3 separate regions of the Homo sapiens genome follow, and all the other regions are linked to region 1. The links come from fine-mapping of genetic effects on gene expression. A gene starts in region 1. Each other region holds a variant in brackets. All regions are shown on one strand. Distances are between the middles of the regions. Region 1 holds the start of ANXA2R-OT1 (ANXA2R overlapping transcript 1). Region 2 overlaps LOC100506639 (a long non-coding RNA gene). Region 3 holds the start of LOC124900972 (a long non-coding RNA gene).

Evidence for each region. PIP is the estimated chance that this variant, and not a neighbour inherited with it, causes the effect.
Region 2: its variant is the best candidate, but not a certain one, in a credible set for the expression of ANXA2R-OT1 in esophagus mucosa (GTEx, PIP 0.73).
Region 3: its variant is the best candidate, but not a certain one, in a credible set for the expression of ANXA2R-OT1 in monocytes (BLUEPRINT, PIP 0.50).

Annotation. Positions count from the first base shown.
Region 1 is chr5:43,061,526-43,072,061 of GRCh38, reverse strand. It overlaps ANXA2R-OT1 (ANXA2R overlapping transcript 1), which reads left to right and starts at 4,623. Exons shown (of 3, transcript NR_104651.1): 1 at 4,623-4,764; 2 at 4,905-4,975. It overlaps LOC100132356 (a long non-coding RNA gene), which reads left to right and starts at 5,091. Exons shown (of 1, transcript NR_034127.1): 1 at 5,091-6,875. LOC100506639 (a long non-coding RNA gene) reads right to left here and starts at 5,039. Exons shown (of 3, transcript NR_102752.1): 1 at 4,276-5,039; 2 at 3,845-4,092. RefSeq lists an enhancer at 5,012-5,411.
Region 2 is chr5:43,081,134-43,091,669 of GRCh38, reverse strand. The region is part of intron 2 of LOC100506639 (a long non-coding RNA gene); the gene reads right to left. Among named protein-coding and RNA genes, the nearest start is that of ANXA2R-OT1, 19 kb to the right of the region's middle. The variant G/A (reference allele first, on the strand shown) is at 3,152.
Region 3 is chr5:43,092,800-43,101,095 of GRCh38, reverse strand. It overlaps LOC124900972 (a long non-coding RNA gene), which reads left to right and starts at 3,603. Exons shown (of 2, transcript XR_007058762.1): 1 at 3,603-3,688; 2 at 4,309-8,296. LOC100506639 (a long non-coding RNA gene) reads right to left here. Exons shown (of 3, transcript NR_102752.1): 3 at 7,538-8,073. The variant C/T (reference allele first, on the strand shown) is at 4,124.

The DNA.
Region 1 (10,536 bases):
ATGCCAGTAATGCCAGCACCTTGGGAGGCTGAGGAGGATGGATCACGAGTTCAGGAGATCGAGACCATCCTGGCTAACACAGTGAAACCCTGTCTCTATTGAAAATACAAAAAATTAGCTGGGTGTGGTTGCGGGCACCTGTAGTCCCAGCTACTCGGGAGGCTGAGGCAGGAGAATGGCATGAACCCCGGAGGCAGAGCTTGCAGTGAGCCAAGATCACGCCACTGCATTCCAGCCTGGGCGACAGAGAGAGACTCTGTCTCAAAAAAAAAAATCATTCATATTTCCATAAGTGCCCCTCTGCCCCTCCCCATCTCCTTAATGACATAGGATGTTTCTCAGCAACTTTGCCAGCCAGAGACCTCTGGCTGGCGATGCCCTACCTAGGCCTTGCTGGAGCCCAGGCTAACCACAGGAGATGCCCCATCTACTCGGTTTGCTGGGCTGTGCCTGGCATGTCCTCTGGTGCAGATCCTGTGGCCACCATGACTGTGCACTCAGCCCCTGGCAGGAGGGGTGTGTGAGCTAGTGAGTGTGGGGTTCCACTGGTAGCTCCAAGCACCAGCACAGGAGCAGGCTCTGTGTGGGACTTGTGGCTGGACCAGGCATGTTGCAAGTGACTCCTATGGTGGACTCTGGCATCCAGATGAGGGGAATGTGATGGCACCCAAACAGGGATGCCCGTGACCCCAAAGCCCCAGAGTGGGTGTTACAACATGCTAATAGCTCTTTCAGTCCCGCCCTCTGCAGCCCGAAAGATGTCAGCGTGTTAACAGCTCTGTCAGTCCTGTGGTCTTGCTCTGGCCTACAGCTCCAGGGCTGGTTTGGCCCAACAGCTGCTTCCCGTGTTACAGCCTTCTTTGTACCCGTGTTAGGTGGATCCCGAGTTGTTGTCCTGCATCCAAGAAGAATGAGGTTATGCTGAAAATCAAAAAGTGAGGAGGGCAGAGAGGAGTTTTATTGAGCCACAAAACAGTTCTCAGTGGAGAGGGGATTCGAGGATGGTTTCCCACCAGAAGTTGGGTGGTCTCTCTCCCAATGTGGCAGGGTCTGGGGCTTTTATAGGCTCAGAATGGGGGAGTGCATGCTGATTGGTTTGTGCATATGCAAAAAAGGCTAAAACAAAAGCACCACTCAAAGGTGGGCACAACTGTGTAAAAAAACAATTAGGGAAGGGCAGGTATATGTAAAATAGGTGAAGTGTGGGGATCAATCAGAGGAAAGTGCACTAAGTGAAGTGTGTGGATCAATCAGAGGGAAGTGTGCTAAAGGGGAAGAGAGATTCTTAATCCGGTCCATGGATTTACTGGAGACTTGTAGCTTGGCTTTCATGCTTTAAACTGTCTTTGGTTTGAAGGTGGGGTTTCACCAGGGACCCACCCTTGTCTCCCTAGGATTTGTCTGCCTCCTGCCACTATCATTAAGATGGTATCTAAAGTCTCAAATTTCACCACACTTTTGGATATTCAGTTCTTTCTATGATGCCTCCATGCACATTAGATTAAACATTAAAAAACTTGGCTGGGCGCGGTGGCTAATGCCTGTAATCCCAGCACTTTGGGAGGTGAAACCCTGTCTCTGCTAAAAAATAAAAAAAATTAGCTGGACATGGTGGCGGGCGCCTGTAGTCTGAGCTACTTGGGAGGCTGAGGCAGGAGAATGGTGTGAACCCGGGAGGTGGGAGCTTGCAGTGAGCCACTGCACTCCAGCCTGGGAGACAGAGTGACACTCTGTCTCAAAACAAAAAAATAAAAAAATAAAAAATAAAAAACTTATATTCCTTTTCTCGTGTTAATCTGCCTGTTGTCAGATGAATTCACAGCACTCTCTGCCCAGCCACTGAATCTAAGAAGGTGGAGAAAAAGTATCTCCTCATCTATGCTGGAAAGCATGAATGTGGATTCTTGCTTTTCTAATCTATGACTTGCATAGCTTCTGTGCAACATCCTGACTTCCCAGACAATTCACCTGTGCATACCACTTCTGTGTAAAGACTATCCTTGTTTTTTTTTTTTTTTTTTGAGACAGGGTCTTGCTCTATCGCTCAGGCTGGAGTGCAATGGCGCGATCTTGGCTCACTGCAAACAAGCTCTGCCTCCTGGGTTCACGCCATTCTCCTGCCTCAGACTCCCGAGTAGCTGGGACTATAGGCACCCGCCACCACGCCTGGCTAATTTTTTGTATTTTTAGTAGAGACGGGGTTTCACCGTGTTAGCCAGGATTTGTATTTTTAGTAGAGATGGGGTTTCACCGTGTTAGCCAGGATGGTCTCAATCTCCTGACCTCATGATCCGCCCACCTTGGCCTCCCAAAGTGCTGGGATTACAGGTGTAAGCCACTGCGCCTGACCAGTCTTTTTTTTTTTTTGAATGTTTAAAAATGTTTCCATTTTGTGCCACCTTCCTTTAGTCAACAATAACCCAAGTTTTGTTATTATTAGTTTATTGGTTTAGCCAGATTTATCTTGATGAAATTTTACAAAAATATACTTTGCGGCTGGGCACTGTGACTCATGCCTGTAATTCCAGCACTTTGAGAGGCCGAAGCAGGTGGATCACTTGAGGTCAGGACTTTGAGACCAGCCTGGCCAACAGGGTGAAACCCTGTCTTTACTAAAAATACAAAAATTAGCCAGGTGTGATGGTATGCACCTGTAATCCTGGCTGCTTGGGAGCTGAGGCAGGAGAATAACTTGAACCTGGGAGGTGGATGTTGCAGTGAGCCGAGATCGTACCACTACACTCCAGCCTGGGGAACAGAGCGAGACTCCGTCTCAAAAAAAATGCTTTTCTTTATTCTTTGTTTCTTCTTCTATATGACAAACAATGAAAGAAAGTATTAAAGGCTGGGCATCATTTGTGGTTTGTGTCCCACAGTTTGCATTCCAGATTTGATCTGGTGCCTAGAACCTGCATACACTTAGCATTGCCACCCAGCACCCAACTCTACCACATCTGTATTAGTCTGTTCCCACACTGCTATGAAGAAATATCCAAGACTGGGTAATTTATAAAGAAAGAAGTTTTAATTGACTCAAAGCTCTGCATGGCTGGGGAGGCCTCAGGAAACTTACAATCGTGATGGAAGGCACCTCTTCAGAGGGCCGCAGGAGAATGTGTGCCAGCAGGGGAAAATGCCAGGCAATTATAAAACTATCAGATCTCGTGAGACCCACTCACTAACACGAGAACAGCATGGGGAAAACCAACCCCATGATTCAATTATCTCCACCTGGTCTCACCCTTGACACATGGGGATTATTACAATTCAAGGTGAGATTTGGGTGGGGACACGGAGCCAAACCATATCAGCATCTCTCCTGATTTTCCAAATGCAAATGTCTTATAGTCTCTTGCTGAGGAATATACAGTTGCCGACTTGCCCTTTCTCTGACCACCCCACACAAACACCATATTGGAATCAGACAGAATCTGAATGCCGGAACTAGAATGCCTCCTCCTTTAGGGAAGTAAGCTCCATAACTCCTGTCCACATTCCTAACCTGGAAGAGTGACCCCTTCCCTCCAGAGGTGCTGATCCCACCATTTTTGCTAAAATAGGAAGCTAGGGTGGAAACGGAGAGAGGAATGGTGGGTGAGATATTTTGTTTTTTCAAAGGCTCTGCACAGTATCTTCAATTAGATAAAGTGGCTGTAACTTTTCTTCTATTGACACTGCCCTCTTTCCTTTATTCTACTGCCTGCAAAAGAAGGCAACTGAAGAAGCCTCAAGTACCAGGGCAGGTTTTGGCTAGCTGAAGAAAGGGTAAGGTATAGGGGGGAAGACTGGAGGTGACCATCTTGGGAGTGGGTGAGAAGTGAGAGCCCAAAATGGGTCTTCTTACCTCTCTGGTACATTCTGTGCTCTTCTCTGGTCTGACATCCGCCCAGGTTCATCCAGAAAAAGATGGAAATGATTTGAACAGGATAAGCTAGGGTGAGGATTAGACACGATGAGTTCAGCTGGAGACACTCATGGTAGAGTCTGGAGGTCTCTTTGGGGGATCACTTCCAAAAGTGCAGATTTTTAGAAAAACGAGAAAGGTTCTGGAAAGGGATGTTTTCCTTCTGCTCAATGGCAGTTTCAGGTTTCCTGTAAGAAAGGAGTTTGTAGCGTCAGTATATTTGACAAATGTGGGAGAGGGAAGATTCAAGAGCTTGAAATTGCATTGCACTTCCCAAAGATGGAGAAGACATCAGGGATGAATTTCAAAGGTGATAGAAATCGGGAACTGCCCTTTGAGGATTTCAAGGGGAGAGGGAGCAAAGGCCTCACCATCAATCCACACGTCCTGTGCTAGAGTCTTGCGATTCTTATTTCCCCTACCCTCCTGCAACGATTATTCCCATATATCAAGGCCATCTGACAGAGTTAACCATCAGAATTAAATAGCAGTTCCCACAGAGTTCCATCCCCTGGAGAGGTACCTAGCTGCCGGGGCAGGCCTGAAGCCTCGGTCAGGAGGCATTGAGTCTTTCACTCTCCACGGAGGTCTTGGACTGAGAACTTCAAGTTCCAAAGGGATGAGGTGTCGGCTTCGCCCTTAGGAGCCTGGAGGGCTCTGACCAAGGAGAAGGGCGGAGCCCAGCCACTGGAAGGTTTGTTTCTTGCAGTGGAAGACGGTTGGCGACCCGGATGGCTTTTGTTACCAGGGCCAGCCCAATCCGCCCGATTCTCGGTCCCTATACTGCCTCCTTTTCCCATGCGCATCGCAAGGGATCGGTTGATGGGGCCCTCAGTATGACTTCGCTAGGAAAAATAAAGGTCTTCTTAGGCGGGAGGGGACTGATTTGAGGACGGAGGGTGGGAGTAGTGCCAGCAGCACTTTGTCGTAGTGGCACTGGGTGGGCAGTTATCAGTTGCAGTCCGCTCGTTTCTCAGTGCCCACGGTTTCTCACTGACAGTGCAGCTCGTTTCTCAGAGCCGGCGGATGTTCATGGGCAGCACCATCGAGCCAGAAGCAGTATTTGTCCTGGTAAGTCATTTCTCAACTGCCGAAGTGTACTAGGTTCCAGTCCCGCTGGTTTCTCGAATCTGCTAGTCCCACACGAGCACCAATAGGTAAACCCAGCCGGCAGTTTCCGGCTAGCACTTTCGCTATTTGAAGACATTAGGAAGTTATGTGGTGGCTCCGTACCCTCCTTTCTCCATCCGAGGCCGGGGTCCTAAAGTCGGTGTCACGGTGGCAGCACCCAGCGTTTTGTTGGCTCTTTCGCCAGCAGCGCCGAGCGGGGGGTTTTCTGTCACAGCACTTGTTGCACCGAATTTCTCGGTCGCAGAACCTCTCTTTTCCGAGGGTCGACATTTTCTGCGTGACAACACCGTTGGTTCCGCCAAAATGGATGTTGTCCTTGGGAACTCCTCCGGCTGGCGTCACTCTTAGGGTCCCAGCACCGCCATTTCGCCAAGCCGAGTTCTCTTGGTCGCGGCACATCTTGTTCCTCGGTGCCTCCATTTTCTCGGTGGCGGCAGCGCTCTGGTAGCCGATCTGAGGGATTTGGAATCGCAGCCAGTTGCGCAGAGTCTGGGGTTCCCGGGCGACGCCGGCGCTGGGCGGGGGAGCCCGCCGCTCCTCCGAGCCAGAGGCAGAGGAGCTGCGCGGACGCCGTCTCTTCACAGCGCCGCGAGCGCCGACGCACGGGTTCCTGCTCGGCCTCCTGAACCCAGTCCCCCGGCGGCGCCGCTGGCGTCTCTATCGCAGGCCCCTGCGGTTTCGCCCGTCGTTGGCTTCTTGGTCCTAGCAAGTTTCGATTTCGCGGTGCCCGCTATTTCTACCTCTTGTCCAAATAACTAGCCAAAATGTGATTTCTCAGCCTAAGCAAGTCCCGATTTAGGGCATCGGTCTAGCCCTGGCTGCGATTTCTTGGTCCTAGGAAGTCACTGTTTAGCTGTAGCAAGGCAGACTTAACCGTGCGATGGTGACTTTTCTTTTTCTTTGGTTCTTTTTCTTTTCTCTTTCTTTCTTGATACGGGGTCCGGCTCTGTCGCCCAGGCTGGAGTGCAGTGCCGCGATCTCGGCTCACTGCAACCTCCGCCTCCCGGGCTGAAGCGATCCTCCCACCCCAGCCTCCGGGGTAGCTGGGACCACAGGCACGCGCCACCACGCCCGGGTAATTTTTTGTATCCTTCCTAGAGACAGGATTTCGCCATGTTGCCTGGGCTGGTCTCAAACTCCTGATTTCTTAGTCTGACCAAGTCAGAGTTTAGTTATTTCTTACCGTAGCAAGTTGAGAGTTATTCCAGTTTGCGATTTCTGGTTGTAACAATTCTGGCTTTAACCATGCCTACATAATTTTAGTAGTAGCAAATTCCTGTTCCGTAATAGGAGCCCCCATTATAGCCATGCGTGCGGTTTATAACTCCTGTATTAATCTAGGTACTGAAGAATGCAATTTAAAAAAATTTAGCAGTGTCTGGAATTTTTAAATCATACCAAGTTAGAATTCGCAATAGTCTCGCCCTGGCTATGCTGGCGATTTTTCACTCATGTAGAAGTTGGGGTACGTCGGCTACAGATAATTGTTGGTGTCGCAAATACCGGTTTAACCATGGCTGTTTCTTCTTAATCCGAGGAAACTTCGGATAGGCGCAAGAGGCACGGGTTTAGTGCTGACAAATATAATGGTAGGATCTCACCATTCGACCCTGTTTGCAATTTCTTTCTGTTTGTAGGATGCTTTGTATGTTTTGTATACTCAAAAAAAAAAATTTTTTTTTGGTGTATCTTGTTCTGGCAGCGAGGTTATCAGTGTATTTTGTTTTAATTTCTATTTGCTTTTAAATTTTTAATTATTTTTTAATTTAAATGTTACGGTATTTTTTTCTTACCCACTGTCTTCCCCGGTAGAATAAATGTGGCGTATTTCTTCTACTGATTTTCAGTGTCACGTCTCAGGTTCTTTCTAACTTGCCTTCTCCCGTGAGCACTGAAGGCGAGCTAGTTCCCCGCCGCTAGGGTTCTCTTCCGCGGCTCTGCTCTTACGCCGAGCCAGCGGTTTCGCATCCGCACTTTCGCCACTAGGGGCGACTCCGTGTTTTCTCGGTTGCCGCGCTCTTGGTAGCGCTGAACAAAACAACATTCCTTGTTCACAAGACTCACATGTTCTTTGTGGTATCGCTTCCTGTGTCCTAGCACGGCTACTTTCCCCGGGCTGGCTGTCTCACTGTCTCAGCACCGTGATTGGGCAAGACTGCTGGCAGGGCTTGGCCTCGGTTTTTCTGTCACAGGCGTATTTCACTGGGTAGGCGCTTTCTCGGTGGAAGCACCCTACAACCTTCCAACCACCGATATTTCTCAGAGACGAGTTTCTTAGTAGCAATGCCTTAACTGCGCCAAAAATAAAGTTTGCCACAGGACACACCGCTATTCAGTGTGACACTTGATATTGATGCAGGATTTTGGCTCCTCAGCTCAGCTAAGTCCAGGTTGTTGTTGTTGTTGTTGTTTGGAGACGGAGTCTCGCTCTGTCGCCCAGGCTGGAGTGCAATGGCGCCATCACTGCTCACTGCAGCCTCCGCCTCTCAGGTTCAAGCGATTCTCCTGTCTCAGCTTCCTGAGTAGCTGGGATTACAGGCACACGCCACCACTGCCACCTAATTTTTGTATTTTTCGTAGAGACAGGGTTTCACTATGTTGGCCAGGCTGGTCTTGAACTCCTGACCTCAGGTAATCCACCCACCTCGGCCTCCCAAAGTGCTGGGATTACAGGCGTGAGCCATCGCGCCCGGCTAAGTTCAGGTTTTTGTTTCACCATCATGAAGAAATGGGCACGCAGATATCGAAGAGTGAGTGCAGTAGAATTTACTAAGCGAAAAGGAAAGCTCACAGCAAAAAGAGGGGTCCTGAGAACAGGTTTCTGGTTGCCCCCTTAATATTTAAATACAAGGGCTTTTATTTAAAAGCTGATGGGGCTAGGTTCCCTGTTTGTATAAGGCGCAAATTCCTGGTGGCTCCACCCCCATTGCCCCAGTGCATATGCGGGCCCTTAGTCAGCAAGGGCACATTTAGGCCAGGCGCCTGTGCAAGTTCTTTTATTCCGGAGGTTCTCTGGGGACCCTTCCCTTACTGTGTGCCTAAAGCAAGCTGGCTGACTCCTTTTCCTGTGTCCCAGTACCCCTGGTTCCTCAGACTGTAACTTTCTCAGTTGCAGCACCGCTCACTTGTCAAAGCAGGATTGACCTCCGTGGCAGCACCGCTGGTGGGTCCAGCCCGCAGCTTCTCCTAAACAGTTTCGCTAGTTTCTGGGTCCTAGCACTGCTAGTGGTACCATAGCGGCTCTTCATGGGTCGTGGACTTGCAGGATGTTTGCCAACTCCATCCCACGCTGCCTCCCTAGGTTCAGCAGCCGGCCAAAAGGAACAGACTCCTGCAAAGGAACAACCTCGAGGGCTGGATATTTAGGAGCCACATTTATAGGGGCTTTTCTTTCTTTAAAAAAAAACACAACCGGCCATTAGAAGCATGACACTGAGTAATAGATAAGTCCTAATCATAGTCCTTAAGACATGTTTTCATAACTGGTATATGCACTTATATTTGTTTATCCACTTGTTTATAATAATGCATTAAACCCTAAAATTGACACACTAATTTTCAACAGTTATTATTTCAGAGATGCATGGTATCCATTTCCTGTTGTTCAATTTCTCTCCTTCCATCCGCCTTTACATTTCTATTTTTAAAATGTTAATTTTTTCCAAATTCCATCCTGCCACCTTTCTTTTCTTTTCTTTCTTTCTCTCTCTTTCTTTTTCCTTCCTTCCTTCCTTCCTTCCTTCCTTCCTTCCTTCCTTCCTTCCTTCCTTCCTTCCTTCCTTCCTTCCTTCCTTCCTTCCTTCCTTCCTTCCTTCCTTCCTTCCTTCCTTCCTTCCTTCCTTCCTTCCTTCCTTCCTTCCTTCCTTTCTTTTCGACGGAGTTTTACTCCTGTTGTCCAGGCTGGAGTACAATGGCGAGATCTCGGCTCACTGCAACCTCCGCCCCACCCCCTCCCCGGGTTCAAGCAATTCTCCTGCCTGGGACTACAGACGCGGGCCACCATGCCCGGCTAATTTTGTATTTTTAGTAGAGACGGGGTTTCTCCATGTTGGTCAGGCTGGTCTCGAACTCCTGACCTGAGGCGATCGGCCCGCCTCGGCCTCCCAAAGTGCTGGGATTACAGGCGTGAACCACCGCGCCCAGCCCATCCTGCCTTTTTTTTTTTTTTTTTTTTTTTTTTTGAGCCAGAGTCTCGCTGTTTCCCAGGCTGGAGTGCAGTGGCGCGATCTCCGCTCACTGCAAGCTCCGCCTCCCGTGTTCACGCCAATCTCCTGCCTCAGCCTCCCGAGTAGCTGGGACTACAGGTGCCCGCCAACACGCCCGGCTAATTTTTTTTTTTTTTTTTTTTTTTGTATTTTTAGTAGAGACAGGGTTTCACCGTGTTAGCCAGGATGGTCTCGATCTCCTGACCTCGTGATCCGTCTGCCTCAGCCTCCCAAAGTGCTGGGATTATAGGCATGAGCCACCGTGCCCGGCCCCATCCTGCCTTCTAAAACCATCTCGTCATATTCTCAAATCTTTCTGACCCTGTATGCTATATTTTCTGATATCCTTTTAAATTTTCTTACCTTTTCCTGTTATTTCCTTTTTATGCAATTCTTCTTTATAGAATTGTAGAGTTTAGCAGTTTTCTCATTTTGCTTTTGTTGCACCTGATTTTTAAATTTTCCTTTCCTTTAAGATTGATTTATTTCCAGCAATCGGATTCCATGGTGCCCTCAAAGCCCTCATCTCTATGGCTAACATAGGAGATGAAAGCTCAGTTCCCACAATACCCAAACACCAGCCACTAGAAGAATCAATGAAGAGAGGGAGAGAAAGAAAAGCAGAGTGTTAGACTTCAGAATAAGAAGTGAGAATGGTCACATGGGAAGCCTGCTTCATATCCAAATCCTAAAAACACTTTCCAATTCCACTTTGACAATTTATTGCCATTTTCTTATACTGATAATTGGTATTTAATTAATCTAACAAGAAGTACAAGGCAAAGACAGTTTTATTCCCACGTTCCATTCAGATTATAGCACCTAAGCTCCTTTATATTCAAATTCAGAACTGTCACTGTGTGAAAAAAAAAAAAAAAAAGTCTTCATAGCTAGACCAAATTAATGCCAACACCAAGTTTCTGGGTTTTAGTTTCTGACATCTAAGGTGACAGAAAAGTTTCAAAGTCCAAAGGGTGATTGCTACTGCATGTTTTTTTTATCACTTTCTGAAGACAACCATTTTTCTGTGCCTGACACACTGCATGTTGAAGCTATGAGGATGCATAAATCTTTTTCCTGGGATACCTGCAGCTTGAAGGAGTGAGTCTCAGATGCTGCAGGCCCGGAGCTGGGTAGAGATTGTGAGAGAATAGCCTCCTTGGGCCAAGTATGCACCGGTGATGTACTTGAGCCTTCAGTGTTGCTAGATCTTGAAGTTTTGCTGAATATTTGGTTTTGCTGGATCCAATCCATGTGGATTTTTGAGGTGGGCGGGCCCCACATTGGCAGAATTAT
Region 2 (10,536 bases), 20 kb before region 1:
CTAGAAATTTATATCTTGGGTTTTCCAATGAAGAGGCTGTTGCATTGAATTAAGTATACCAGTGGAAATTCTAATTTCCAATGTCCAGACGATGGATCCTTTAAATTAGAAAGACTCCTAAACTCAAAAAACATTTTTAAAGATCTCTCATTCTCAACAATTGCCTTATTTGTATTTATAGGAAGATTACATTAAAAGAAAGACATACAATGGTGTCATGGCTAGCCTTAGAAATTCTCTTGACAAAATTAAAGAGCAAACCCCTAACTGAAAACAAAGTTAAAACCCTTTATGAGCTCAAACTCCTTACTTTGGATCCCATTCAAGATTCACTAAGTAGTCTGCTCCACCTTGTAGTTTAGATAAAATTCTCTGCTTTCACCAGAGTGGCCTGGGTTTGACTCCTGGGCAGGGAATCAGCCCCTTTTGGTTTGATAATCATGTGACTTTTTACTTTTGGGGGTACTCATTTGTTTTTCATCTTTTTCCTTTCCATGGACAGCTTTTGATTGTCTTCCATCTGTAAGGGCACATGGGGCTTTTTGGGCCTTTGTGATGGCCAGATGAGAAGCTGAGACCCTAGAGAGAATATAATCAGACAGATACAAATTATACCCCATTTGTGATTAGCAAAACTCTTACTTCTTTGAGCTATCTTTGAAGTTGGTTCTGGATCTTGTGAGTACTTCTTTGTGCCTCTTTGGAGACACCTCATGCATTCTTGGTTATGTAGGGTGTCTTTGGTTAAAAAGTTCAAAAGCCAGCAATGTTAGCTGTTTGTCTCAGCTAAAATCTGATAATAAGAAATTTTGAAAGATTTTTTTAATTAAAAAAGAGCTACATGGTCAGAAGTCAGCTTAATTAAAAGCTGATATTCAAGCCATATATATATATGAGAGACCCATACCAGTGGCCTAGACCAGTGGCCGTTGTGAGGACTGGGGACATGACCTGTGCCTCACTTTCCCTAGTCCAGCTGTGCCTCCTGGCCATGCTGAGAGAAATCAGGTCCTACAGAGACTGTCTTGAGAGCTCTTTCCTTTGTATTGGTCTCTACATCTGGTATATAACAGTTAAAATTACTTATTTCCTTGATTTTTCACTAAAAATCAGAGTTATTAAGCATTAATATTATAATTATTATGTATAATTAAAACTTCTAGGTTAGGCCAGGCATGGTGGCTCATGCCTGTAGTCCCAGCACTGTGGGAGGCTAAAGCTGGTAGATTGCTTTAGCCCAGGAGTTCAAGATGAGTCTGGGCAATATGGTGAAACCTTGTCTCTATGAAAAAAAAAAAATTTGCCAGGCATGGTGGCACATGCCTGTAGTCCCAGCTACTCAGGAGGCTGAAGTGAGAGGACTGCTTGAGCCCAGGAGGTCTAGGCTGCAGTGAACTATGATCATGCCACTGTACTCCAGCCTGGGCAACAGAGTAAGAGAGTAAGATCCTCTATTTCACAAAAAAAAAAAAAGGAAAAGAAAAGCCTTCTAGATACAAAAAATGCTTCTATATACAAAATATATACAACATACACAAAAACACTTCTATATGCAACATATACAAAAAAGATGTTTTAAATAAAGAAGATTGGCAAGGGCGCAGGGGCTCATGCCTGTAATCCCAGCAGTTTGGGAGGAGGAGGTGGGTGGATCACCTGAGGTCAGGAGTTCATGACCAGCCTGGCCAACATGGCGAAACCCTGTCTCTACTAAAAATACAAAAATTAGCTGGGTGTGGTGGCACGCTTCTGTAATCCCAGCTACTCAGGGGGCTGAGGCAGGAGAATCGCTTGATCCCGAGGGGCAGAGGTTGCAGTGAGCCGAGAACGTGTCATTGCACTCCAGCCTGGGTGACAGAGCAAGATTTAGTCTCAAAAAAAAAAAAAAGGTTATTAAAAAGACATAAAAATATAGTTGTTGGTAAGAAAAATGTTGTTCAGTTTTGAGGGTTTCGAGATGGGGTCTCATTCTGTTGCCTGGGCTGGACTGCAGTGGTGTTATCAGCTCACTATATAACCTCAAACTTCTGTGCTCAAGGGTTCCTCCTGCCTCAGCTTCCCAAGTAGCTGGGACTGTAGGTGCACACAACCATAATTGGGTAATTAAATATTTTTTTTTGTGGAGACGGGATCTCAGTTTATTACCCAAGCTGGTCTTGAACTCCTGGACTCAAGGGATCCTCCTGCCTCGGCCTCCCAAAGTGCTGGGATTACAGGTGTGAGCTGCCACACCTAGCTTAGTTTAGATGTTTGTTTTAAAGTTTTAAATTTTTAATAGTTAATAACAGATAAAACTAAATTTAAAAAATTATAAAAGGTTATAAAAGGTTTATACAAATCTTATCTTCTGTGGTCAAAACTAATTGAGGTTAGATAGACCTGTTCATAATTTTACTAAAATTAGCTTTAGCATTAATAATATACGGATATAGAGATACAAATTTTTTAACAAAATTTCCATATAAGAGATAACAAGCTCTCTAACAAGCCCTCTCCCCCTCCCCCTCCCCCTCCCCCTCCCTCTCGTCTCCCTCTCCGTCTCCCTCTCCCCGGTCTCCTTCCACGGTCTCCCTCTGATGCCGAGCCGAAGCTGGACTGTACTGCTGCGATCTCGGCTCACTGCAACCTCCCTGCCTGATTCTCCTGCCTCAGCCTGCTGAGTGCCTGCGATTGCAGGCGCGCGTCGCCACGCCTGACTGGTTTTCGTTTTTTTTTTGGTGGAGACGGGGTTTTGCTGTGTTGGCCGGGCTGGTCTCCAGCTCCTAACCGCGAGTGATCCGCCAGCCTCGGCCTCCCGAGGTGCCGGGATTGCAGACGGAGTCTCGTTCACTCAGTGCTCAATGGTGCCAAGGCTGGAGTGCAGTGGCGTGATCTCGGCTCGCTACAACCACCTCCCAGCCGCCTGCCTTGGCCTCCCAAAGAGCCGAGATTGCAGCCTCTGCCCGGCCGCCACCCCGTCTGGGAAGTGAGGAGCGTCTCTGCCTGGCCGCCCATCGTCTGGGATATGAGGAGCCCCTCTGCCTGGCTGCCCAGTCTGGAAAGTGAGGAGCGTCTCTGCCCGGCCGCCATCCCATCTAGGAAGCGAGGAGCGCCACTTCCCCGCCGCCATCCCATCTAGGAAGTGAGGAGCGTCTCTGCCCGGCCGCCCATC[G/A]TCTGAGAGGTGGGGAGCACCTCTGCCCCGCCGCCCTGTCTGGGATGTGAGGAGCGCCTCTGCCCGGCCGCCCCGTCTGAGAAGTGAGGAAACCCTCTGCCTGGCAACCGCCCCGTCTGAGAAGTGAGGAGCCCCTCCGTCCAGCAGCCACCCCGTCTGGGAAGTGAGGAGCGTCTCCGCCCAGCAGCCACCCCGTCCAGGAGGGAGGTGGGGGGGGTCAGCCCCCGCCCGGCCAGCCGCCCCGTCCGGGAGGTGAGGGGCTCCTCTGCCCGGCCGCCCCTACTGGGAAGTGAGGAGCCCCTCTGCCTGGCCAGTCGCCCCGTCCAGGAGGGAGGTGGGGGGGTCAGCCCCCCGCCCGGCCAGCCGCCCAGTCCGGGAGGGGGGAGGGGGGGTCAGCCCCCTGCCCGGCCAGCCGCCCCGTCCGGGAGGGAGGTGGGGGGATCAGCCCCCCGCCTGGCCAGCCGCCCCGTCCGGGAGGTGAGGGGCGCCTCTGCCCGGCCACCCCTACTGGGAAGTGAGGAGCCCCTCTGCCCGGCCAGCCGCCCCGTCCGGGAGGGAGGTGGGGGGGTCAGCCCCCCGCCCGGCCGGCCGCCCCGTCCGGGAGGTGAGGGGCGCCTCTGCCCGGCCGCCCCTACTGGGAAGTGAGGACCCCTCTGCCCGGCCAGCCGCCCCGTCCGGGAGGGAGGTGGGGGGATCAGCCCCCCGCCCGGCCAGCCGCCCAGTCCGGGAGGGAGGTGGGGGGTCAGCCCCTCGCCCGGCCAGCCGCCCCGTCCGGGAGGGAGGTGGGGGGATCAGCCCCCCGCCTGGCCAGCCGCCCCGTCCGGGAGGTGAGGGGCGCCTCTGCCCGGCCGCCCCTACTGGGAGGTGAGGAGCCCCTCTGCCCAGCCAGCCGCCCCGTCCGGGAGGGAGGTGGGGGGGTCAGCCCCCGCCCAGCCAGCCGCCCCGTCCGGGAGGGGGGAGGGGGAGTCAGCCCCCTGCCCGGCCAGCCGCCCCGTCCGGGAGGGAGGTGGGGGGGTCAGCCCCCCGCCCGGCCAGCCGCCCCGTCCGGGAGGGAGGTGGGGGGATCAGCCCCCCGCCTGGCCAGCCGCCCCGTCCGGGAGGTGAGGGGCGCCTCTGCCCGGCCGCCCCTACTGGGAAGTGAGGAGCCCCTCTGCCTGGCCAGCCGCCCCATCCGGGAGGGAGGCGGCGGGGGGGGTCGGCCAGCCGCCCCGTCCGGGAGGGAGGTGGAGGGGTCAGCCCCCCGCCCGGCCAGCCGCCCTATCCAGGAGGTGAGGGGCGCCTCTGCCCGGCCGCCCCTACTGGGAAGTGAGGAGCCCCTCTGCCTGGCCAGCCGCCCCGTCCGGGAGGGTGGTGGGGGGGTCAGCCCCCCGCCCGGCCAGCCGCCCCATCCGGGAGGTGAGGGGCGCTTCTGCCCGGCCGCCCCTACTGGGAAGTGAGGAGCCCCTCTGCCCGGCCACGACCCCGTCTGGGAGGTGTGCCCAGCGGCTCACTGGGGATGGGCCATGATGACAATGGCGGTTTTGTGGAATAGAAAGGCGGGAAGGGTGGGGAAAAAATTGAGAAATCGGATGGTTGCCGGGTCTGTGTGGATAGAAGTAGACATGGGAGACTTTTCATTTTGTTCTGTACTAAGAAAAATTCTTCTGCCTTGGGATCCTGTTGATCTGTGACCTTATCCCCAACCCTGTGCTCTCTGAAACATGTGCTGTGTCCACTCAGGGTTAAATGGATTAAGGGCGGTGCAAGATGTGCTTTGTTAAACAGATGCTTGAAGGCAGCATGCTCGTTAAGAGTCATCACCACTCCCTAATCTTAAGTACCCAGGGACACAAACACTGCGGAAGGCAGCAGGGTCCTCTGCCTAGGAAAACCAGAGACCTTTGTTCACTTGTTTATCTGCTGACCTTCCCTCCACTATTGTCCTATGACCCTGCCAAATCCCCTTCTGCGAGAAACACCCAAGAATGATCAATTAAAAAAAAAAAAAAACAAAACAAATATTTACGTATGATAATGAGAAGAACACTGTCCTAGATGGCTGAAATGCTAATAGTCTTTAATTCACTATTTTCTTATTCTGACTGTTGCAAAGATTTGTAGTTTTATTGATGATTCTCACTCATGTTCTAAAATAGGAGTTGGCAAACTATTGGCTGCCTGTGTTTATAAATAAAGTTTTCCTAGAACACAACAAAAAAAAAAAAAAAAAAAGAGATAACAAATGCAAGATTTTTTGTTCACCTTTTAAATACATTGCAAAAGAAAAAAGAGAGTTTGCCTCATGCTGTCTTTGTCTTTTTGACTGTTTAGAGAACTGAGTCTCCTCTCTATCAAAGAGTAAGGGTTTTTGCTTTTTGAAATCTTTGAATTATCACTTTGGCTAAATGAGTAACTTATTTGTGTAAGATAAGGATTACTTATGTGTAATTCTATTTTGATCCAGGGTTTGAAACCTTTCTTATTTTCCTATCAAGTGTTTTAAGCCTTTAATAGTTGACAAACTTCTCAAAATCAAATTTTATATTCTAAAATTAAGTCTTTTTGACCTGAAACTAACTTTTAATTTTGGTATATAAAAATCATATGGAAAACACTGTCAAATAGAAGTGGCATTTAACTTTGAGTTACATTTGCAGAAATGTGTTATTAATATGTGCTCCAAAATTGTATGAGATTCCTAAAATTATGATATGTCTTGGCCTATGTTATGATTCATATGATTATTGTGTTAAATTGTTATATGCCACAGAAATAAGCAAATTTTCTTGTCAATTGTGTCTTTTTTTTTTTTTTTGGAGGCGGAGTCTCACTATGTCACCCAGGCTGGAGTGCAGTGGCGCCATTTCGGTTCACTGCAAGCTCCACCTCCTTGGGTTCATGCCATTCTCCTACCTCCCTCCTACCTGTAGCTGGGAGTACAGGCGCCTGTAACCATGCCCAGCTAATTTTTTTTTTTGTATTTTTAGTAGGGATGGGGTTTCACCATGTTAGCCAGGATTGTCTTGATCTCCTGACCTTGTGAACCGACCACCTTGGCCTCCCAAATTGCTGGGATTACAGGCATGAGCCACTACACCTGGCTGTCAATTGTGTCTTTAATTACGGCTATTCTAAGTCTTTTGCCATCCATAGACATTTATTGTTTTATTTTCATTCTTCTTGAAAGACAGTTTATAATCAGCTATAGTCCAAAATTTGATTCTTCTTCAAAAAAATTCATAAGGATCCTGACAAGTACTCTTGAATACAGGTTTTTGATAACTTTGGAGATCATAACATTGAACAATGTGAAATTTTTCAAGACTCTAGTAAACAAAGTTAATAGGTTCATGAAAGTTGATAACTTCAAGCAGAACAGGAATGAATTACATGGAACTAAACTGATAAAAGACTAAAATAATTTTTGTAACTTTTTTGCTTAAAATATTGCTGATTCTTTTCCTGTTTTGTTTTTGAGTCAAGAAAAATTTTATTTTAAACATTAATATTTATAGTTTACAACAATTGGGTAAAGTATACTTTTGTGAATAAAATTGAAACATTTGCCGAGCGTGGTGGCTCACTTCTATAATCCTAGCACTTTGAGAGGCTGAGGCAGGCGGATCACGAGGTCGAGAGATTGAGACATCCTGGCCAACATGGTGAAACCCCATCTCTACTAAAAATACAAAAATTAGCTAGGTGTGGTGGCACGCGCCTGTAGTCCCAGTTACTCGGGTGTCTGAGGCAGGAGAATCACTTGAACCTGGGAGGTGGTGGTTGCAGTGAGCCGAGATCACGCCACTACACTACAGCCTGTTGACAGAGCGAGACTCTGTCTCAAAAAAAAAAACAAAAAAAAAAAACAAGGAAACATTTACCTTTCTCTACCTGATTTCTCCAAAATTTGGAAGCTATTCGTGAGTATTCTTAATTTATGGCAATATAGTTATTTGCATACACAGTAAGAATCTGCTTTCTTTTGTAACAGCTCACAATTGGATATACTGGTTATTTTACCAAGGCTTTAACTGGAATGATATATTTTTGGATATGACCAGACTGCTTTGAGCAATTTAGGTTGTCTTCACAGAGCAAATAAAAAGCCCCTTGGAAAGACTGGCTTGGTGCCTCATCTACATGGCTCCCTTACGAGGTTCCTGATGATCTTGTGGTAAGTAAATAACATCACCTTATGACAGGCCCAGGACTCTCCAGATATTTTGGGAACCTCAAAAAGAGAGGAATTCACTGGTTTTATACACACATATTTTACACAGTTTTATACACTGGTTTTATAAGCACAGTCTGATGGCAAATCTTTGGCTTGGCTTCTCAGCTTTAAGAAGCTTTTAAAAGTGTAACCTGAGATTCCTTATGAAAAAGTTCTAGTGGCCAAGCACAGTGGCTCATGCCTGTAATCCCAGCACTTTGGGAGGCCGAGGTGGGCGGATCACCTGAGGGCAGGAATTCGAAACCAACCTGGCCAACATGGCAAAACCCCGTCTCTACTAAAAATATAAAAATTAGCCAGGTGCGGTGGTGAGCGCCTGTAATCCCAGCTACTTGGGAGGCTGAGGCAGGAGAATTGCTTGCACCTGGGAGGCAGAGGTTGCAGTGAGCAGAGATCGCGCCATTGCACTCCGGCCTGGGCAACGGAGAGAGACTCCATCTCAAAAAAAAAAAAAAAAAAAAAGTTCTAGCAACACCAACTTAAAAAATGCCTACATCACTAATCACTATTCTTGCTATACTTTATGCAAAGAATCAGGCCAAATATAGTAAGACTAAAACATTTTACAAGTAAATTAGTCTTACTATGATTTGTCTTTGGTATAAATGAGAGACTAAAGAAAGAAAAATTGCGGGGGCCGGGCACGGTGGCTCGAGTCTGTAATCCCAGCACTTTGGGAAGCCGAGGCGGGTGGATCATGAGGTCAGGAGATCGAGACCATCCTGGCTAACATGGTGAAACCCCGTCTCTACTAAAAATACAAAAAATTAGCCAGGTGTGGTGGTGGGCGCCTGTAGTCCCAGCTACTCAGGAGGCTGAGGCAGGAGAATGGTGTGAACCCAGGAGGCAGAGCTTGCAGTGAGCCGAGATAGTGCCACTGCACTCCAGCCTGGGCAACAGAGCAAGACTCCATCTCAAAAAAAAAAAAAAGAAAGAAAAATTGCATTTCAGAAAAAACACTATAGTACACCTGTTATTAGACTCTAGCCCTGCCCATTGTTTTTGAGTTTTTGTTATTTGGCTACAATTTAGACCAAATACTAAATATTTTTGTCTCTACAAGTCTCTGAACTGATGTTTCCATTTTTCTTGGTTAGACTCACTAAAGATTAAAATTGTGCTTTTTCTTAAAGCCCTGCCAACTGAAGTTAGGCAATATAAACTTCAGGAAAAATCACCAGAGCAACTTACATATAACAGCTAGGAAGGGCAAATAAAAATACTAGGACCCCAAATTCCCTAAGTTGAAGGGAAAAGTCAAGCTTGGACCCAAGTCACATAAAATGGCCTCTTATTTTTTCCTCTAAATAGAGAGCTACAAAGACAAAAGGCTATATACCATCTTCAGTTTGCTCACAAGGAAATTTCTTGTGGACCTTGATATCTGTACCCTAAAATAGTTCTGTTGAATTTCACCCTAACAATGTAAATTAACAGCTTATCTTCATGGGTACTGGACAAAGGACAGAACTAAAGGACATCCCTCCACCCACCTGAACCTAAAATATACCCAATGTACCCCTGAACCTAAAATAAAAGTTCAAAAAATTGATTAGATTCAGATGTATCTTTGTCCACTCCTTTATTTTCAACTCTTTTTATCATTTTACTTTATGTCTTCAAAATAGCATAGAGTTTGAAGCTATAATTTCTTTCTCTCTTTTCTCTCTTTATTTTTCAAGAGATGAAGTATTACTCTGTCACGCATACTGGAGTGCAGTGGCATGATTATAACTCATTACAGCCTTTAACTCCTGAGCTCAACCAATCCTCCTGTCTCAGCCTCCTGAGTAGCTGGGACTACAGGTGTGTGACCCCATACCTTGTTGTAGTTTACTTAATCTATTAATGCAATTGTACTTATCTTTTCACAGGGTAGTTCAATACACTGAATGATTGTATAAGTGGGAAAAGTGGCATCCCCCTTGTCCAGTTTCTATAAGGTACAATTATACCTGAATAACTTTAGTTTCATGTCTCATCTTTTAGTTCTCACCACTAAACTAATGAATTATCTGGTTGTAGAGTTTGAGAGGGGATCTACACATGAAAAGTTTGGCCCCTCACATTCCACCCTCTTTTATTAAGCCAGCGCCTCCTGGAAAACTGTGCTATGCTTGCTTCTCCATGCCCCACATTTCATAGACACACAGCCTCACTTGAGGAAACTTGAGGTTGTGTAACTCTTCCTGAGGCTGGATAGATAAATGCAATTCTGCCGTCAAGAGGTCCATTTTTGGTGTTAGCATTAGGCCCATCTTCCAATTTAGTTTATTGTGTGTGATTTTCCTGTATCCCTTATTTCCAACCCTTCAATTCAAGATAACCATCCACAGTTGGTTATTTTATTACTAAATTGAATATTCTGTTGTTTACCTTTTTACATAGTTTTATTTTTATCAATATGTATCTACATATTGTGTGTTTTTGTTAATTTTATAAAATAAAACTGTGTTCTGTGAAGGGAAATTAAACTTTGGGACCCCAAACTCATTTAGCCAAAGGGAAAAGTTAAGCTGGGAACTGGGTCACACAAACCTGCCTCCCGCTTTTGATTCCTAAATAAGATGGCTACAAGATGAAAAGCTACATGCCTCTCCCATATTTTGCCCACAGGGAAATTCCTGGTGAGCTGTTAAAACTTCACCATGGCAATGCAAATTGATAGCTTATCTTTACATGTGCAGTCACCCTGCTCGCCAGACACAAATGCATATCTGATTGTTCCCTCTACCCCATTTTGTCTGTTATCTTATGTAAAATGCAGATTCCCCATATTTTTCCTCTGCCCCTTTGGTTTATGTGAAAACTGTGCGCTTCTCAATATCCTGCCCTTTCCCCTTTAAATTTGGAGCCCTCAAAATCATCATCAGAGAAAGGCATAGACCTGTCTCCCAGGCATGTCCTTAACTTTGGCAAATAAACCTCCTAAAATGATTGAGACTTATCTTGTCATTTTCCTCAATTGACAGTTCTATGTAGTCTTTTAAACTTTTTCTCTGAATATTATGTTGCTATAATGCAGCCATGATTTTGAGTAATGTTGTAGTTTATTCTGATTTTTGTAAAATATTCCGTTCTGTGAATATAATATGTTCCTTTCTATCCGCTCTCCTATTGTTGGAGTTTTAGTTCCTTCCTCCTCAGCAAATTTTTGTTACTGTGAACAGTA
Region 3 (8,296 bases), 30 kb before region 1:
ACCTGCCTCGGCCTCCTAAAGTACTGGGATTACAGGCATGAGCCTCCACACCCGGCCCTCAATTATTTTTGATAGTTTTGTGTCAATATTTCCATGATATATAACAATTCCTTATTATTCTAGCAATCTTTTCCTCATCATTTTGTCTTAGTTCTACATAATTCTTATACTGAGGATTAAACTGAAGCATGGCTCTAACCCTGAAACTTCTCTAATAATTTTTAATCTCAATGATATTGTTTGAATATTTGTCCCCCTCCAAATCTCATGTTGAAATTTGGTTCGGGACAGAGCAGTGGCTTACACCTGTAATCCCAGCACTTTGGGAAGCCAAGGTGGGAGGATAGCTTGTGGCCAGGAGTTCAAGACCAGCCTGGGCAACACAGAGAGACCCCTGTCTTGATAAAAATAAAAAAGGCCAGGCGCGGTGGCTCACACCTGTAATCCCAGCACTTTGGGAGGCTGAGGCGGGCGGATCACAAGGTCAGGAGATCAAGACCATCTTGGCTAACACAGTGAAACCTCGTCCCTACTAAAAATACACACACACACACACACACACACACAAAATTACCCAGGCGTGGTGGCGGGCACCTGTAGTCCCAGCTACTTGGGAGGCTGAGGCGGGAGAATGGCATGAACCCAGGAGGTGGAGCTTGCAGTGAGCCAAGATCGCGCCACTGCACTCCAGCCTGGGCAACAGAGTAAGACTCCATCTCAAAAAATAAATAAATAAATAAATAAATAAATAAAATAAAAAAGATTTTGATAATATTGGAAGTGGGACCTAAAGGGAGGTGTTTGGGTCATGGGGGTCGAGCTATCATGAATGGCTTGGTGCAGCCCCCAAGTAATAAGTAGGTTCTCACTCTATTAGTACATACAATAAAAAGAGAACCATGTCAAAAGGTACCTGAGATACACCAAGAAAGCTCAAACTTGAAGACATGTTTTTAATATGTAAATGTGTATGAATGGATACATACAAGATGTGTTTAAAATCTGTTTGAGCTGCCACTGTCAGATTCAATGTATAGCTAGCATCAATTTGCTGGGGTTAGAGGGCATCAAGATCTTCCCAGAAATTCAGAGCCTTAGGTAATCCAAAGGAAGATTCTGTCAACATTTATACCTAAGCTTGACAGCCCTGATGCCTCTTTGGACCTGGCTTGGAAATATGATCCTCTATTGTAGCAATTGTACCTTGTTGCTGAATGATGTCATCATCCACAAGATGGATCCATTCTTGATTCTCACCCTATTGACTTTTTTCCATTGCAACCATAACATGGGCTAGCTGCTCTACACCTCTCCAGTGGACTTCAAGTGCTGCTGAGCTCAAATAAATCTTGTCTGTCCCACCATTTTAACCAGACAGGCAGAGCTCTTCTGTCTTAAGTGTCTCATAAATCTTTCAAATAGGTAAACTTCTAGTGCTATGCTTCCTCTGACCGTTCTGCTATTCTGTTTTCCTGTGCCATGGTTTCTCATTAGGTTTTCTACTGTTTTTTTGTTTGTTTGTTTGTTTGTTTTTCTTTTTGTTTTTGTTTTTGAGATGGAGTTTCACTCTTGTCGCCCGGGCTAGAGTGCAATGGCGCGTTCTCGGCTCACTGCCGCCTCTGCCTCTCGGGTTCAAGCAATTCTCCTGTCTCAGCCTCCTGAGTACCTGGGATTACAGGCACCCCCCACCAAGCCCAGGTAATTTTTTTTTTTTTTTGTATTTTTGGTAGAGACAGGGTTTCACCATATTGGCCAGGCCGGTCTCGAACTCCTGACCTCAGGTGATCTGCCCACCTTGGCCTCCCAAAGTGTTGGGATTACAGGCATGAGCCACTGCGCCCGGCCCTACTATTGTTTTTTGAAGCCCTAAATTCAAGGACAAAGGTCTGGCTTTGAAGAGAGTCACCATGTTCAGTAACCTTTCTGGTCTTCAAATAAGCTCTCCCAATGATCTTGGAGTTGGACTGTATTCTGAATGATCTCTTCACTGTGTCTTTGCTCTCTCAGTAGGTTGTAAGGTCTGTGAAAGCTGTAGCCAGTCCTTCATCTTTGTGTATATGGCTCCCATCACCGCATCTGGCATATGGAAGGATATCAACACATGCTTGTGAAATGTTGAAACTAATCAGACTTTTACAGTAAGAATGATATTTGACCAAAAAAATCTGCATTTGTATCTGTCAACTTAAAAGAATCACACAATTATTAATTTAGAAAGGAGATTTTCTTTTCTTTTCTTTTCTTTTTTTTTTTTTTTTTTTTTTTTTGAGACAGGGTCTCACTCTATCACCCAGGCTGGAATGCAATGGCACAATCATGGCTCACTGTAGCCTCAGCTTCCCCAGACTCAGGAGATCCTCCCACCTCAGCCTCCTTAGTAGCTGGGACTACAGGCATGTGCCATCATGCCTGGCTAATTTTGGTGCTTTTTGTAGAGATGGGGTTTCTCCATGTTACCCAGGCTGGTCTCAAACCCCTGGGCTCAGGTGACCCCTCTGCCTCAGTCTCCCAAAATGCTGGGATTACAGGTGTTAGTCACTGTCCCCGGACAACTTTCTTTTTTTTTTTTTGTAGAGACGCAGTTTTGCCGTGTTGGCCAGGCTGGTTTTGAACTCCAGGCTGGTTTTGGCCCCAAGTGATCTGCCCACCTTGGCCTCCCAAAGTGCTGGTATTACACATGTAAGCCACCATGCACAGACTTAATTTTATTTCTTATAATGTGTTATGGCCTGTAGGGTGGTTATTCTGACAGGCTGGAAAGTGTAGTCCCCAGCCAAAGACAGAAGCAGGCACTTTGAGGAAGTGGAGGGTGGAACAGGGATTTATGTTGAATGGGTTGACCAAGTATACGTATTCAACAGGTTACAGGAGGCATATAAATATTCATGAATGTGTTCCTAATGCATGTGTACTGAATAAATATGCCTGTTACATACAGCCCATATTCATTCTGGGGTGGAGACAACATTCAAATGTATTACAGTTAGGCCATATATGTCAAAAGGTGAAACAGGGACACGAAGGCACTCAAGTGCACAGCCTCTGTGAACAGTGCATGCTGGTGGTCTTCTTATTAGGAGAAAGTTACTGAAATCAGTCTCTTGTCCAATCAAAGCTGCATTTATAGCTTGTGGAACAAGGGCCTCAGTTAGTCACTGTCTGGCGATGGATGAACTGTAATGGTTTTAATAGTGATTATCTTGAGGCCAGCGCTTGATTAGCTGCTAGAAAAAAAAAAAAAAACCTTGTGGTAGTTAGAACATAATTTGTTTTTTAAGTGTAGAGATGTGTGATTCAACCCTTGCCTGGCACAGCCTTAGGTCTCATTTATAGTTTGGTGTCTTAATGCTATAAGGAGTCTGTTCTGTCAGTCTCATGATCCCTATTGTAATAATAATGCTAGTCAGTCATGTTTAAACTGCAAAAGGGAGTAGGTATAACAAGCTATGTCTGACCTCCTGTCTTGTCATAGCTAGGAACTCAGGTTTCTCTGGGGTCCCCTTGGCCAATAGAGGGTCCATTCAATTGGTTGGAGGCCTTAGGATTTTATTTTTAGTTCTCATACCCCTTGATGTTTTTGCAAACAGAATGTTTGACTCAGATGAAAACGTATTACAATACAATTTCATTATGGCTATGATATGAGAAGGAAACATAATCTACTTTCAGACAGAATACTCCAAGAAAGGTACCGTTTTACATTTGTTCTCATTACTTTATCTTTGAATCCATGATAAAATCAATAATAATGATATTAGTATTAATAGCAATTGACCAAATTATTTTCTGCTATGCTATGTTGAATATTCACTTTTATATGGAATGCCTTCATGAAAGCTACCTTGTAAAATGAGAGCAAATTTCACTTCCATTTCAGAGATGATAAAATAACCGAGTCAGCCAGCCAGAGAACTTGGCTTCTTGCTATTACACATATACACACACATTCTGAAATCCTTCTAACTTAGCAATTCATCAGTAAAAGCCAAAACTGGGCTTGTGAAAGTCCAAGTTAGGAATGTACAACTATCTCTGCCCCACCTCTAATCCAAAACCCAAACCATTCCTTAGGCATCTCCCCAAGAATTCCTCTGCTAAGAGACCTGGGTTTCAGAACTACCTA[C/T]GTGATTTGGGGCAATAATCATGCCCCAAATCATGCAGCATACTACAAGCCAGTGTCCCCCAAAAGAGCTTCCTTCTAGGAAGCTAATACTCTTCTTTTCAACTTCTAACCCAGTCTGTCACCAAAAGGATTTCATTCTAGAAAATTTCATCAAAGGTGATTGGCTTTTATGTTTATAACACCAGGCCATTCTTCTGTTGCGATCAGCTCTGGGCTTCCTGTCACCACCCAGCTTGCCCCTATCTGCTTGGGACTGCCTAATCAGCCAGAAGACCACAAAAAAGGGCACTCATCCTTTGTCACCTGAAACAGGACAGATGTGAAGCACTTTCAACAACTTGTGCTTGAGGCCTGGGATTCTGTAGAGCATGTTCCAGTGTACAAGAGGATTCAAGTCCCTGGCAGCCTGCTTTCTATCCAAAGCTGGGTCACCTCTCTTGGGACCACCAGGACATTGAATTGCTTTCCCATTCCTGTGGACTTCTGAAATGGGCCCACCTGAGACAAGAACCCAGAGTGCCTAGCACCTTTAGGCTGGGCACAGAACCACCCACCTAGGAACCGATGACTGCAACCCAGGAGGAGACACAGATGCCCCCAGAGATGCCCCCAAGTCACAGCCTCCCTTGAGCCCTGCCAATGCACTCCCTAACTGCCTCACTTGGCTGGATCACCCTGCTCCAGGAACAGACAACTGGAGCCTGAGAAATCAGATGATGGAGACCTACCAAGCATCACCCTCCTCCTGCCTCCCAACAGCCACCACCCAGTGTTCCAAGTCTTGTTGGGAGTAGAGCCCAGGAGCAGTGGCTGAGTTGATGCAAGGCTGCCTCTGCCACCTGCCTTTGGCCTCCTTGAGATTTCTTTCACTGAGACTCTTCAATGGGTGATCCTGTGCCAAAAGGTATTGCTACCATGACACCTCTAGGTTTGCTCAAACACAATGGTAGAGATCGTGCCTGCAGAGAACTTTGCACATGTGTTTTTGCCCACGTGATAAAACTGTGCAAAAATGCAAAATTCTTACCCATGCATGTTTCTGGTTTGGCTGCTGAGGAAGGACAGGGAGCAGAGGAGCTGGTGGCCGGGCCTGGGCCAGGACAGGTGCATGGCCCTTGGTGCAATAGGGAGGAGTCCAGCATGAACACAACTTTTATTGGTATAGAGGTGACTGGGTGTTTTAAAGGGAGACTGAGGGAATAGGGAGGTGTGTGAGTGAGGAAGACCTGCGTAGAAACAGGAAAGTGAAAAATTATAGAAAGTGGAAAGGGGGGATTGGTCCATATGAACTGAGTCTCCTAACTGGGGCTAAACAAAGCTAGGCTCCTGCCCTCCCACAGAGGCTGGGAGACAGGAGCCCTATTTTCAGGTCTTGCCTCGAACACACAGTATATTCTTTTTGTAGCCTTGATCTTTCTCAGTCAGGCATCTAAAGGAGGGCTAGGGTCATCCCAGAGTTGTGGCCTTGAGCTGTAAGACACTGTGTTAGTGTTTTTCAAGTCTTTATAGACCAAGGTTGAAGCTTAGTAAAGAGTACTCCCAGGAACCTGTCTAGAGATTGGTCAAGGAGATAATCTTTGTTAATGTCAACTGAAGAAAAAAAAAATCAAGCTTTTAAATATTTAAATTTATTTAGAAGTCTTTCTGAGGACTACAGACTGAGGACTTACAGCCCTGGAGGAGTCTTTTAGAGAGATTTTGCAGACTGCTTAGAAACAGCGTTTCTGCTCATAACTTATATACAGGTCATGGAGGTTTCAGTATGCCTTCAGAACTTACGTCAAACTTGCTCAGATTTTACATTAAAGCAGAATCACATCAATGCTTGGGTGCAAGAGTACATCTGGTTATAGATTATAGAGCATAATCACTAACCCTGTCACATATTATGTGTAGGAAAATATGTGTCACATATTATGTGCAAGGACTGAGTTCATTTATGTGTTTTGTTTGTTTGTTTGTTTTTTTGAGATGGAGTTTTGCTCTTGTCGCCCAGGCAGGAGTGCAGTGGCGCGCTCTTGGCTCACTGCAACCTCTGCCTCCCGGGTTCAAGCGTTTCTTCTGCCTCAGCCTCCCATGTAGTTGGGATTACAGGCACCCACCACCACGCCCAGCTAAATTTTGTATTTTTGTTAGAGACGGGGTTTCACTATGTTGGCCAGGCTGGTCTTGAACTCCTGACCTCAGGTGATCCACCTGCCTTGACCTCTCAAAGTGCTGGGATTACATGCATGAGCCACTGCGCCCGGCTCATTTATCTTTTAAGGAACATAGTGACTCAGACAGGAGATGTGGGGGGCAATGTGCTGTATCCTGCCTGTTGTTGTTGTTGTTGTTGTTGTTGTTTGTTTGTTTGGACAAACTCTCACTCTGTCACCCAGGCTGGAGTGCAGTGGTGCGATCTCGGCTCACTGCAACCTCCACCTCCCGAGTTCAAGTGATTTTTGTGTCACAGCCTCTCGAGTAGCTAGGATTACAGGCACCTGCCACCATGCCTGGCTAATTTTTGTATTTTAGTACAGACGGGGTTTCATCATGTTGGCCAGGCTAGTCTCAAACTCCTGACCTCAGGTGATCCACCTGCCTCGGCCTCCCAAAGTGCTGGGATTACAGGCATGAGCCACTGTGCCCAGCCCCTGTTTTGTTTTTAAAGCATTCTCCCAGACAGAAGGACATCATCACAGAGTCAGGGGCTTTGTGAAATTATGCTGGCAACGGAAATGAGCAAACATGGCTTTTTACATTGCAACTTTGTCTCAAGTAAGTTACTGGGGATGTGGGGCCAAAGGGGAGGCACCTTCCTGCACCATAGGAAAGCTGGGAATGGAAAGAGAAGCCAGGAGTGCAGGATGGAGATACCAGAGTACTCTGGGGGTGGTTTGCAGAGCTAGGACCTCAATTTTGGGTGGGGACCAGGATGCCAAACAAATCTCCAAATTGACCTCTGTCTAGGTTCCTGGATGCTGTTCCAGGTGTTGAAGAAGGGTCAACCTAGGATCAGTATGGTGGCTTATGCTGAACTGGGAAGATGCATGAGGAAGAAGCAGAGAGAACCAAGCAGTCACTTCGCAAGGCCAATTCTGGAAGAGCACATTTGGGGAAAATGGGCTTAAGTAGAGCCAGGAAAGTTCTAGTGGAAAGACAGGATTGGTCCAAATGAATTGAGTCTCCTAACTGGTGAGGCCAATTCTGGATGAGCAGATTTGTGAGAAATGGGCAAGGCCTTCCCTCTTCCAGGATATGTGGGTTTCCTTCATCACAGTGGCCACCACATGAATTTCTAGGATGAAGGGGTCAAAATCTCCTGGCAACCTTGAGCTTAAATTGTGTTTGTGTAACACCTTCCCTAAGGTTCCAATAAAATTACTAGGGGGTTTTACAGAGTGAAGTAGAAGGGACTGACAAAGACCCTCCTTGACCAAACCCTAGACACAGTCTCCTCACCCCTTTCCCACCTATGCTTGGACCTTGGACATTGCCTCAAGAGCCCAGTTTTAGCCAGCATCCCCTATCTTCAATATCTGATTCGCCCTCGATATCTGACCACATTCCTTATTCTCCAATTGATATCTGATCACCCTGGTCTGCCTATAGCAAGAATACTGTTAGGTCACTTTAGAAAAAATTAACGTATCCTTTTAGTAATTTTCCATTCACTAACCCCTGTCCTGCCCCACGTTCCATCCCTACCTCTCAGTCTTTGGCTGTAAATCCCTTATTTTCCTTGTATTAGGAGCTGATCCCAATCTCAATCCTCTACTGCAAAGTACACCTATGGCAATAATGCTGAATGAAGTCTGCTTTACCATCCTAACAACTGTGTTACATTTTTTCTTTAACAGAAATAAAGTATGTTTGTGCTTTTGAAGAGGTAGGAGACTTTCTGTCACCTAAGTCCCATATCCAGTCCTGAAGCCTCTTCTTGCCTCAGAGTTGTTAGGGCTGGTTTCCTGAGGAAATAAAAACATTTCACTCCAAAATCTATTTGTTTGACATACTTCATGATAGTGGTTCAGAGGGCCTGCAAACAGAAGTAGTCCTAAAAACTGTGTTTTATGAGGGAGACCTTCATCTGTAGAGAAAACCTGTATTGATGTAGCCAGACTTAAGCCCCCATTCTTTCTGGTAACCTTAAATTGGTATATAAACATTCATACCCCATTGTTAGGGTAA